Linked DNA regions of Homo sapiens: region 1 is linked to region 2. Evidence: fine-mapped expression QTL. A gene starts in region 2. The other region holds a variant in brackets. All regions are shown on one strand. Distances are between the middles of the regions. Region 1 overlaps DDX43 (DEAD-box helicase 43). Region 2 holds the start of OOEP (oocyte expressed protein).

Region 1 (5,381 bases), 42 kb before region 2:
TCAGCGGTGACACTAGATATAAAACACATAGAACCAGATATAAGAAGCTAATCATGGATGGAATCTGGTTGAGTCTGGAACAAGCCAAATGAACAGGGATAAATAAAGTAGCAAGTATAATCTGGGAAGTAGCTGAAAAATTATAGGTAATAGAATAAAATGGTTTTCTGGGCAAGAAGTTTGTGAGAGGAATAAGGAGAATCTAGAATTGGCCTTTCATGGGTGGACTAAGCTTACTTACCCTGCTCTTCCCGTGCGCCCTATTCGGTGTACGTATTCTTCAATATTCCGTGGAAAGTCAAAATTATAGACATGTGTAACGTCATGGACATCAAGTCCTCTAGAGGCTAGATCAGTTGCAATTAGTATTCTCACTTTGCCTAAAAAGTAAAGCCAAATGAACACTGAACCATTCTGGTATAAACCAACCCAAGATCTAAAAATAATATTTGCCCTAACTAATTTAATCAATTTTATTTCTTACTGTTTACATTAAAATGCTTACTTTGTGAAAATGGAAAAGTAACTGCCGGCAAGTTACAAGATACCATGGTTCAGCAAATGGGTCCTAAACCCTTCGAACCATGACAGAAAGATACATTTTTCAGATAACTTCAGATATATTTTCTGTTGCATATTAATACCTTGATATCCAAGTTTAAAGTCTTGTGTTTATTTAATACTTAAAGGCAGATTAATGTTTAGAGCTCTAATGAGTGTAGTTGTAGGATACAGAAGGTGAGGACAGATCTTAGAAATAAATGGGTTTCATGAAAAGATGTTACTCAGCCAAGCCCAGGTATTGCACTAATTTTAAACTGTATGAAATACTAATTACATAAACATACCTGTTTTAAAGTTCTCTAATGCTTTCTCCCGATCTCTCTGTTCTCTATCTCCATGCAGAGACTCTACTGATATATTTCCAAGTATTAGGTCACTTGATAAGTGATCCGCACTGAAGCAAAAGATAAACTCAGCATTCTTAGGTGCTTATTCTAATGCCACCAGTTTTACTTCTGTTAGCAAAAATCTAAAGTAACATAACAGACTTATCACCCCCATTTGGAATTAGTATACAAATAGAAATGATCCTAATCAATTTAATTAATTATAATGGACACACAAGAAAAAATACCTACACAGCTTTTCGAGAAACGAAGACAATGACTTTGTCTGTGGATGACATACTCTGTAGAAAAGTTTGCATGTGACTCCATTTCTCTTCCTCGGTGGTTACAATTATATTTTGCTTCACTGAACTTACAGCCTAAAGGATTCAAAGAACATAGTTCATCAAGGTCATCATGATTGAGGGTGAGACCGCATACATCAGCTCAAAATGCATCTTCTCTCTCATTGGTTAATGTTTTTAATAAACTGCTAAGCAAAATGGCAGACGTCCTAAAAAAATTACCTGTTTCTACTCAAGATTTGTATCTTAGATGTCACTTAACCTCAAAATACTATTGGTACCATTCCTTCAACCAACTATTTGTCTCTAATCATTTTATTTCATTTATTTATTTTTGAGACAGAGTCTCACTCTGTCGCCAGGGCTGGAGTGCAGTGGCGCAATGTCGCTAACCATTTTATAAAACAAATGTTAAATGGATCACCATTTGTAAATCTCTAATGAAATAAGGGGTGTAAGCAATGACCCATTATTATTAATGATTAAGTGAAAGGCCAATTTCATTTATTAATGATTAAGCAAAAAGCCAGAAAGAGAACTTTATATTATAATGGAGGGTTCCCACTGACAACACATGAACCCAATATTCAGTCTTAACTTCATAAAGGGAACAGACTTATATTTATGTATATATGTAGACCTACGTTTAGACCCTGATTCTAACAGGGTTAAAATTAGGTATCAGAAAAATATAAACCCTGACTTTGCTGGGTGCGGTGGCTCACGCCTGTAATCCCAGCACTTTGGGAGGCCAAGGGGGCAGATCGCCTGAGGTCAGGAGTTTGAGACCAGCCTGGCCAACATGGCAAAACCCTGTCTCTACTAAAATACAAAACTTAGCCAGGAGTAGTAGCCATGTTTGTAACCCCAGCTACTCAGGAGGCTGAGGCACAAGAATCACTTGAACCCAGGAGGCAGAGGTTGCAGTGAGCTGAGATCACCCCACTGCACTCCAGCCTGGGCAATACAGTGAGACTCTGACACACACACACACACACACACACGCTATATATCACTTGCACATGCGTGCGCACGCACGCGCACACACACACACGCGCGCGCGCACACACACACACACACACACACACACACACTATATATATATATCACTTGAACCCAGGAGGCAGAGGTTGCAGTGAGCCGAGATCACCCCACTGCACTCCAGCCTGGGCAATACAGTGAGACTCTGACACAAACACACACACACACACACTCTCTCTCTCTCTCTCTCTATACATATATAGGCCCTGACTAGAGGTTGATGGTATTAGCTGATTATTGAAATTTCAAATGAGATAAT[C/T]GTATTACAGCTCTATTAAAACTATATGCAAGTGTGATTTGCCCTAAAATTGGGGAGTGGGCAGACTAGGCACACCAAAATTAGCTATCTTCAGAATTTTCATAAGAAATGTTAAACAATAGTAATAAAAAAAAGCTTACAACTAGATCCAATGTACCAACATAGACAATCATTGGTTCTTTCAAATAAGATTGTGCGAGGCGATGAACTGAATGAGGCCATGTAGCACTGGGAATACAAGTTACAAACATTACAATTTTGTTGTAAAAACATTACTATGTTTCCTTAAGCATGCTATGAACCAAGTTACTCATGAAAGACAAATTTAGTACTTATTTTTTCAATAAGTAAGGCAAATTTAACAGTTAATTCACTAATTACTCAACTACTGTAAAGCTATTAGATGAAACAAATATGTTTAATAAATAGGTTTTTGGCTGGGCCCAGTGGCTCACGCCTGTAATCCCAGCACTTCGGGAGGCCAAGGCGGGTGGATCACCTGAGGTCAGGAGTTCAAGACTAGCCTGGCCAACATGATAAAACCACGTCTCTACTGAAAATACAAAAATCAGCTGGGTGTGTTAGCGGACGCCTGTAATCCCAGCTACTCCGGAGGCTGAGGCAGGAAAATGGCTTGAGCCCAGGAGGCGGAGGTTGCAGTGAGCCAAGATTGTGCCACTATACTCCAGCCACCGCAACAAAAGCGAAACTCCGTCTCATAAATAAGTAAATAAATACTAGGTTTTTATGAACCAAAGGATACCTGTACACCTTCAACTAAATACTAATCTATGAAAAGCTAAGGCCGTGTGTGGTGGCTCATGCCTGTAATCCCAGCACTTTGCGAGGCTGAGGAGAGGCGGATCACTTGAGGTCAGGAGTTTGAGACCAGCCTGGTCAACATGGGGAAAGTCTGTGCCTACTAAAAATACAAAAATAAGTCAGGCGTGGTGGTGCGTGCCTATAATCCCAGCTACTCGGGAGGCTGAGGCAGAAGAATCACTTGAATCTGGGAAGCAGAGGTTGCAGTGAGTGGAGATCATGCCACTGCACTCCAGCCTGGGTGACAGAGTGAGACTCTGTCTCAAAAAAAAAAAAAGAAAGAAAAGAAAAAAAGGTACTAAAAGGGATTACTATTAGGTTAATTTTATCTCCTGGCCTTTATAAACGACAAAAAAATTCCAATTTTTCATAGGGTCAGCAGGCAATACCAAGTATTTAAGCCAAATAAATTTTTTTTTTTTTTTTTTTTTTTTTGAGATGGAGTCTTGCTCTGTCACCCAGGTTGGAGTGCAGTGGCGTGATCTCGGCTCACTGCAAGCTCCGCCTCCCAGGTTCACGCCATTCTCCTGCCTCAGGCTCCCGAGTAGCTGGGACTATAGGCGCCCGCCACCACTCCCGGGTAAATTTAGTAGAGACGGGGTTTCACCGTGTTAGCCAGGATGGTCTCGATCTCCTGACCTCGTGATTCGCTCGTCTCGGCCTCCCAAAGTGCTGGGATTACAGGCGTGAGCCACGGCGCCTGGCCATAAAAATCTTTTAAAAGGTTGTTGGCTCATGCCTGTAATCCCAGCACTTTGGGAGGCTTAGGTGGGTGGATCACTTGAGCTCAGGAGTTCAAGACTAGCATGGGCAACATGGTGATAACCCTGTCTCTACAAAAAATACAAAAATGAGCTGGGTGTGGTGGCATGCACCTGTAGTTCCAGTTACTCAGAAGGCTGAGGTGGGAGAATCGCTTGAGCTGGGAAGGCTGAGACTGCAGTGAGGCAAAATGGTGCCACTGCATTCCATCCTGGGTGACAGAGTGAGACCCTGTCTCAAAACGCAAAACAAAACAAACCTTCAAAATATACTGATCAAAGAATATCTGCATTTAAATGTTTCCTCAACTATATATAAAATAATGAAAGTGACCACTTTGTATACCTTCACAGTAATTCAATAAAATCTAAGTTCTCTTTTCTTGGGCTGGGCATCGTGGCTCAAGCTTGTAATCCCAGCACTTTGGGAGGCCTAGACAGATGAATCACCTGAGGTCAGGAGTTTGAGACCAGCCTGGCCAACATGGCGAAACCCCATCGGTAAAAATACAATAATTAGCTGGGCATGGTGACGTGTGCCTGTAGTCCCAGCTACTCAGGAGGCTGAGACAGGAGAATTGCTTGAACCCGGGAGGCAGAGGTTGCAGTTAGCCGAGATCGCGCTGCTGCACTCCAGCTTGAGTGTCAGCGAGACTTTGTCTCAAAATAAATAAATACATTCACTTTTCTTGAAATAGGAAGGTTATTTGTAATAAAACTATGTGAGGGGATTTTGTATTTTTTAAATTTTATATTATTTATACTAATAAAGACAAAGTATATAAGCCCAGGATATATCATTCTTTTTTTTTTTTTTTTGAGACAGATTTTCACTCTTGTTGCCCAGACTGGAGTGCAGTGGCATGATCTTGGCTCAGTGCAACCTCTACCTCCCAGGTTCAAACGATCCTCCTGCCTCAGTCTTCCTAGTAGCTGGGACTACAAGTGTGCGCCACTATGCCCGGCTAAGTTTGTATTTTTAGTAGAGACGAGGTTTCACCATGTTGGCCAGGCTGGCCTCAAACTCCTGACCTCGGGTGATCCACCCACCTCGGCCTCCCAAAGAGCTGGGATTATAGGCGTGAGCCAGTTTGCCCAGCCAATGTTGTTATTTATACTAATAAAGGATATAAGCCTAGGAGATATCATTCTTTATAGATCACTCATTCAAATAATCATTGCTTCCTGTTTTATTGTGAGCAATAAGTATTCAGTAATCAAATGCTTATCTCCTTAGACAAGTGAACCCTTTATTCAAAAGTGAGACCTTACTATGATAAGTAAATGTTTGTGTTGAAATCCC
Region 2 (5,381 bases):
GTGACTGACTGAGCTCCCAAAAGGTTTTCTTGCACAATAGCCCTCCTGTTTTGGCAGGCTCAGGTGCAAAGGCCTATCGGTCTCCCCAAAGCTGAGAGATGCGAAACCAACACTTGCGAATCAGATTCTGGCCTCTCACTGAGCAGGGAGGTTCTTTCCTCAGGGGAGAGCAGTAATCCCACAGGATCATTTCTTCCTTGAGGAAGAAATAACTGAACTAGCCACTGTTGGGCTACACCTGAGACTGAGTTGTATCTGAGACTAACTGCTTCACGGTGTCCAGCATGCTGGGGATTTATGTGGGGTTTATGGCAGAAGATCCCCACAAGATAATGGGGTGCCATCTTTTCCACACCAGGAAGTGGAATTTGAGAGAAGTTAACTTATTCCTGTGTGGCTCAGATCACCACAGTCCCCCTAAAGAAGCTGTTAAAATTCTATACATGCTGGGTAAAATATTCTTTGTCTACAGTAATGTAAGTGCGTCTCATGATTAGATTAAGGCTTTAATTTTTTTAGGTTTATTTTTAGGGTCTCGCTCTGTCACCCAAGCAGGAGTGCAGTGGTGTGATCATGGCTCACTGCACCCTCAAACCCCTTGGCTTAAGCGATCTGCTAGCCTCCACCTCCTAAAGGGCTGGGATTACAGGCACGAGCCACAATATCTGGCCTTGATTAGGTTAAGGGGTTTTTGTTTGTTTTTTGAGATGGAGTCTCACTCTGTAGCCCAGGCTGGAGTGTAGTGGTGCCATTTTGGCTCACTGCAACCTCTGCCTCTGGGGTTCAAGCAATTCTCCTGCCTCATCCTTTCGAGTAGCTGGGATTGCAGGTAACCACCACACACTGGCCAAATTTTTTTATTTTTATTTTTTTTTATTTTTGAGACAGAGTTTTGCTCTTGTTGTCCAGGCTGGAGTGCAATGGTGTGATCTTGGCTCACGACAACCTCCGCCTCCTGGGTTCAAGTGATTCTCCTGCCTCAGCCTCCTGAGTAGCTGGGATTATAGGCATGCACCACCATGTCCGGCTAATCTTTTGTATTTTTAGTACAGACTAGGTTTCTCCATGTTGGTCAGGCTGGTCTCGAACTCCCGACCTCAGGTGATCTGCCCGCCTCAGCCTCCCAAAGTGCTGGGATTACAGGCATGAGTGACCGTGTCTGGCCCACACCCATCTAATTTTTGTATTTTTAGTAGAGACCGGTTTTCTCCATGTTGGTCAGGCTGGTCTCAAACTCCTGACCTCAAGTGATCCTCCTGCCTTGGCCTCCCGAAGTGCTGGGATTATAGGCATGAGCCACCTTGCCTGGCCAGGTTAAGGTTTTAAATGTTTATTGCATCAGAGCCATAGCTAAATCTTGTTTTCCTGTAAGTATGCCCTGCACACCTGATAGTCAAGTTTTCTCAGAAACCATTGAGGGTGAGAGGGGGTGGGATCAGGGGCAGAAAACTGGAACCTCCACACAGTCCTAGATGATCATGTGGAGTCTGGAACATGCTTTTCACTATTTTGAGTTTTTTCTTCTATGCTGGCTGTGGTGGCTCACGCCTGTAATCCCAGCACTTTGGGAGGCCAAAGTGAGAGGACTGCTTGAGCCTAGGAGTTCAAAACCAGCCTGGCAACATAGTGGGACCCTGTCTCTACAAACAGACAAACAACAACAACAACAAAAAGAGCTGGAAAATAGCTGGGTGTGGTGGCAGGTGCCTGTGGTCTCAGCTACTCAGGAGGCTGAGATGGGAGGGTCGCTTAGGCCTGGGAGGTCGAGGCTTCAGTGAACCGAGATCGTGCCACTGCATTCCAGCCTAGGCAAGAGAGTGAGACCTATCTCAGAAAAATAGAAGTTTTAAAACAAACACATAGTTAATTGTAAGAACGAAATAGTATATTCAGCAGATACTATTCTGAAACAACCAAACAATATTTCTACAAATATAGTAGAAAATGTGTAAGGACATGCATGGGGATGATATATACACACTAGCTTCAGGATGATTTCCTCTGGAGAAGGAAAGGAAAGATGCTTGAGTAATATCTGTTTTAAAAACAGAGGAGTGAGGCAAATGTGGGGAAATGTCAACATCTGTTAAACTCGGGGAGGGTACATGGCCGTGTTATATTACTTTTTTGGATGTGTGAAACCTTTCATAATCCAAATTTTTAATTAAAATTACAAACATTGGGAAAAAATGTCCATCGATAATGGTTGTCTTAGGATACTGGAAATAAAGGAAAATTGTCTAACTTGCTACATGTTCTATAAGACCACCTCTGACGTGTTGTTTAAAACATGACACACTTGCTTGAATGATTTAAAAATGGTAACCATCCGGAGAGTCAGAAGATAACAACAGGGAGCAGAACAGAGAAAACTGACACATTGAACAAGCCTGCCCTGGGTCCGATATACCTATCTTTGGGAGGCAACGATGAAACCTTAACCTAGCCAGCAAAGGTGATTCCCAGTCTATTAATAGAGTCGTCAATTCAAACTCACACTGTTAATCAGCTATAAGGTGGGCAGAGGACTTTCAGGCTAAGCATACCTTACGAGCAGAGATGACGAAGGAGAGCATTGGAGACCCAACAGGAGGCCAAATGAATACTAGTTCAAGGTCAAAGAGGCAATCCCGGCGATTGAAGCAGCGCAGGAAGTGTCCAATGGTGCCGCTATGCCGGGGCGTCGCTTGCACCCGCTCACCCCGACGCGGTGCGAGGCGCCGCCGGAAGGGGCGGAGCGGGTCGAATATGGTAAAAGAGAGCCCGAGCTTCGCGCCTGGGTCTGGAAGAGGTCTTGCGAAAGCCGCCTCGAGCGCGCTCCGCGGCTGCTGGTCCCAGTATGGTCGATGATGCTGGTGCCGCTGAGTCCCAGCGGGGCAAACAGACTCCGGCCCACTCCCTGGAGCAGCTGCGTAGGTTACCACTTCCGCCGCCACAGATTCGCATCCGGCCCTGGTGGTTTCCGGTGCAGGAACTGAGAGACCCTTTGGTGTTCTACCTAGAGGCATGGCTGGCAGACGAGCTCTTTGGTGAGCGACCCCAGGTGTGCTAGTGGGCTGTCCACCTCCAGTCTGAGAGAGGCTTGGCAGAGCAGCTCTCTACAGTCTCTTTCCCAGATTCGCAAGCCAGGAGTGTTGCAGTGATGCCCACCTTCCAGTTCTTCCCTTCCCTGGCCAACATTCCCTTCAAATCCAGCTTCTAACCTGCCACCGTGCAGCCCCTCAGAGTTTTTCCTTACTTGTTTAGGCCCAGACCGAGCCATAATTCCAGAAATGGAGTGGACGAGCCAGGCCCTGCTGACAGTGGACATAGTGGACTCAGGGAACCTAGTCGAAATCACCGTTTTCGGGCGGCCCCGTGTACAGAATCGGGTGAAGAGCATGCTCCTGTGCCTGGCATGGTTTCACCGAGAACATCGTGCCCGAGGTGAGGGTCTTTGAGAACCTGCATGTGGAGGAAGCCACGAGTGACCATACTGGCCTTGCTCGGTTTCCTTCCATCCTCCCTTAACCTTCTCAAAATTTCTTGGTTTCCAGACCCCAGGGAGCTAGCTGTACGAAGTTTGTTGGGAGGGGATCCTGGGGTAGGACCTTGGGAAAGTCAGCAGAGATCTGATAGATTCAGACCCATCACTGCCCAAGTCAGCCTCACCTGGGTTACAGCACTATCGCAGATCTTTCTCTCCTCCCCAACTCCCAGTCACGGAGTAGTTCGAAACAGCAAACACTTGTCCCTGTCCATGGTTAGTATCAACTGCTTCTCTTCCAGCTGAGAAGATGAAACACCTTGAGAAGAACTTGAAGGCCCATGCATCAGACCCCCACTCTCCCCAGGATCCTGTTGCTTAAGACAACATAGTTACTGTTGGGAACATCTTAACTTTCTAACTTTTGCTGCTAAAGTTGAAGAAAAGCAAGTATAGCATTCTTAAATCCCCGTATTCCTTTTTCCTGTGTCTTGATGGATTGTGGTTTATTTTGTTGCAAGAGTGAGTTTGAACTATTCTAATAAAGAAATGGCTATTTTGCCAAAAGCATTAAGATCTTCACACACTTATAATAAAGCAAATTTATAAAAGATTGACTCCCACTCATGTTTTGATATGAAGGGTGGGCAGGTGATAGTTTTGTAGGTTTTTGTTTTTGTTTTTTTTTCCTGAATTCCCATCATTTTGAAACTCCTAATCCTTTTATGATTTTCTGGTCAGAGAGAGGCCCTCACCCACAGGGAGCGGATATGCAGGGGCAGATAACCTCACAAATGGTGATCTGTTTTGTTTTTACATAATTGGTCCTCAAACTTTAAAGCTTGTAAGAAATCACCTTGGGAGCTTGTTAAAACACAATTTCCTTGGCTCCTTCTCCAGAGAATTCTGATTCAGTACTTTTGGGGTGGGGCTTAAAATTTCATTTCTGATGAGCTCACACATACTACTAAAGCAGCTTATCTGAGGCTCTCACTTTGAAGCTGGTAATTGATCCCCCGAAGAGCACCAGCTGTGCGTTTTCCTGGAGTGGGGCATCCATTGGGCAGAGGATGACGTTGCAAGAAGCAAGCCTGGGCGGTCAGCGTTCATTAATGGTAGTTTTCGATTTACCACGGAAGAGCAGGGTTCCCAGGCACCTTGGCTCGTGGATGGCGCCCTGCCTTGGAGCCGGCTGTCTACCTTTTTCTACAAGGCGAGGCTGCACGGGTGTCCGGCATGGGCCAGGTTGTTTTTCCACTACGTGTTGTACTGAAATTACCAATCTCTGCAAAACAGCTCCTATCCTTGCCGCCCCACTTTCTGGAAGTAGAATTTTTGGGGCGAAAGGTGCCAAAAGCCCTGTGGGTTCAAGCACAGTTTGGATTGGTTTGACTCATGGAATTTATTCACTCCTTGGCAATAAAGTATTCTAGCCTTTTGCAAGCGTTTTAAACTCACAAGTCTCTTTAATTGTGCTTTTTTGATTAGAGGTGATGTTGAATATTTTCTTTGTTTCAGTTTTACATTTTTCTTTATTCATTCCTTTTTTTTTTTTTTTTTTTTTTTGAGATGGAGTCGCTCTGTCCCCCAGGCTGGGGTGCAGTGGCGCAATCTCGGCTCACTGTACGCTCCGCCTCCCAGGTTCACCCCATTCTCCTGCCTCAGCCTCCCGAGTAGCTGGGACTGCAGGCGCCCGCCACCATGCCCGGCTAATTTTTTTTTTGTATTTTAGTAGAGACGGGGTTTCATTGTGTTAGCCAGGATGGTCTCCATCTCCTGACCTCGTGATCCGTCCACCTCAGCCTCCCAAAGTGCTGGGATTACAGGCGTGAGCCACCGTGCCCAGCTTTCCTGGTGAGATTTTTATTGTTTATTTTTATTTATTTTTGAGATGGAGTCTCGCTCTGTTACCCAG

The links. PIP is the estimated chance that this variant, and not a neighbour inherited with it, causes the effect. A credible set is the group of variants that fine-mapping cannot tell apart.
Region 1: its variant is the best candidate, but not a certain one, in a credible set for the expression of OOEP in visceral fat (GTEx, PIP 0.86).

The regions. Positions count from the first base shown.
Region 1 is chr6:73,409,547-73,414,927 of GRCh38, reverse strand. It overlaps DDX43 (DEAD-box helicase 43), which reads right to left. Exons shown (of 17, transcript NM_018665.3): 11 at 2,636-2,723; 12 at 1,143-1,270; 13 at 849-958; 14 at 242-380. Among named protein-coding and RNA genes, the nearest start is that of DDX43, 17 kb to the right of the region's middle. The variant C/T (reference allele first, on the strand shown) is at 2,496.
Region 2 is chr6:73,367,251-73,372,631 of GRCh38, reverse strand. It overlaps OOEP (oocyte expressed protein), which reads left to right and starts at 2,735. Exons shown (of 3, transcript NM_001080507.3): 1 at 2,735-3,029; 2 at 3,247-3,426; 3 at 3,769-4,077. The coding sequence starts at 2,840. The coding sequence ends at 3,848. It overlaps OOEP-AS1 (OOEP antisense RNA 1), which reads right to left and starts at 2,928. Exons shown (of 2, transcript NR_174946.1): 1 at 2,547-2,928.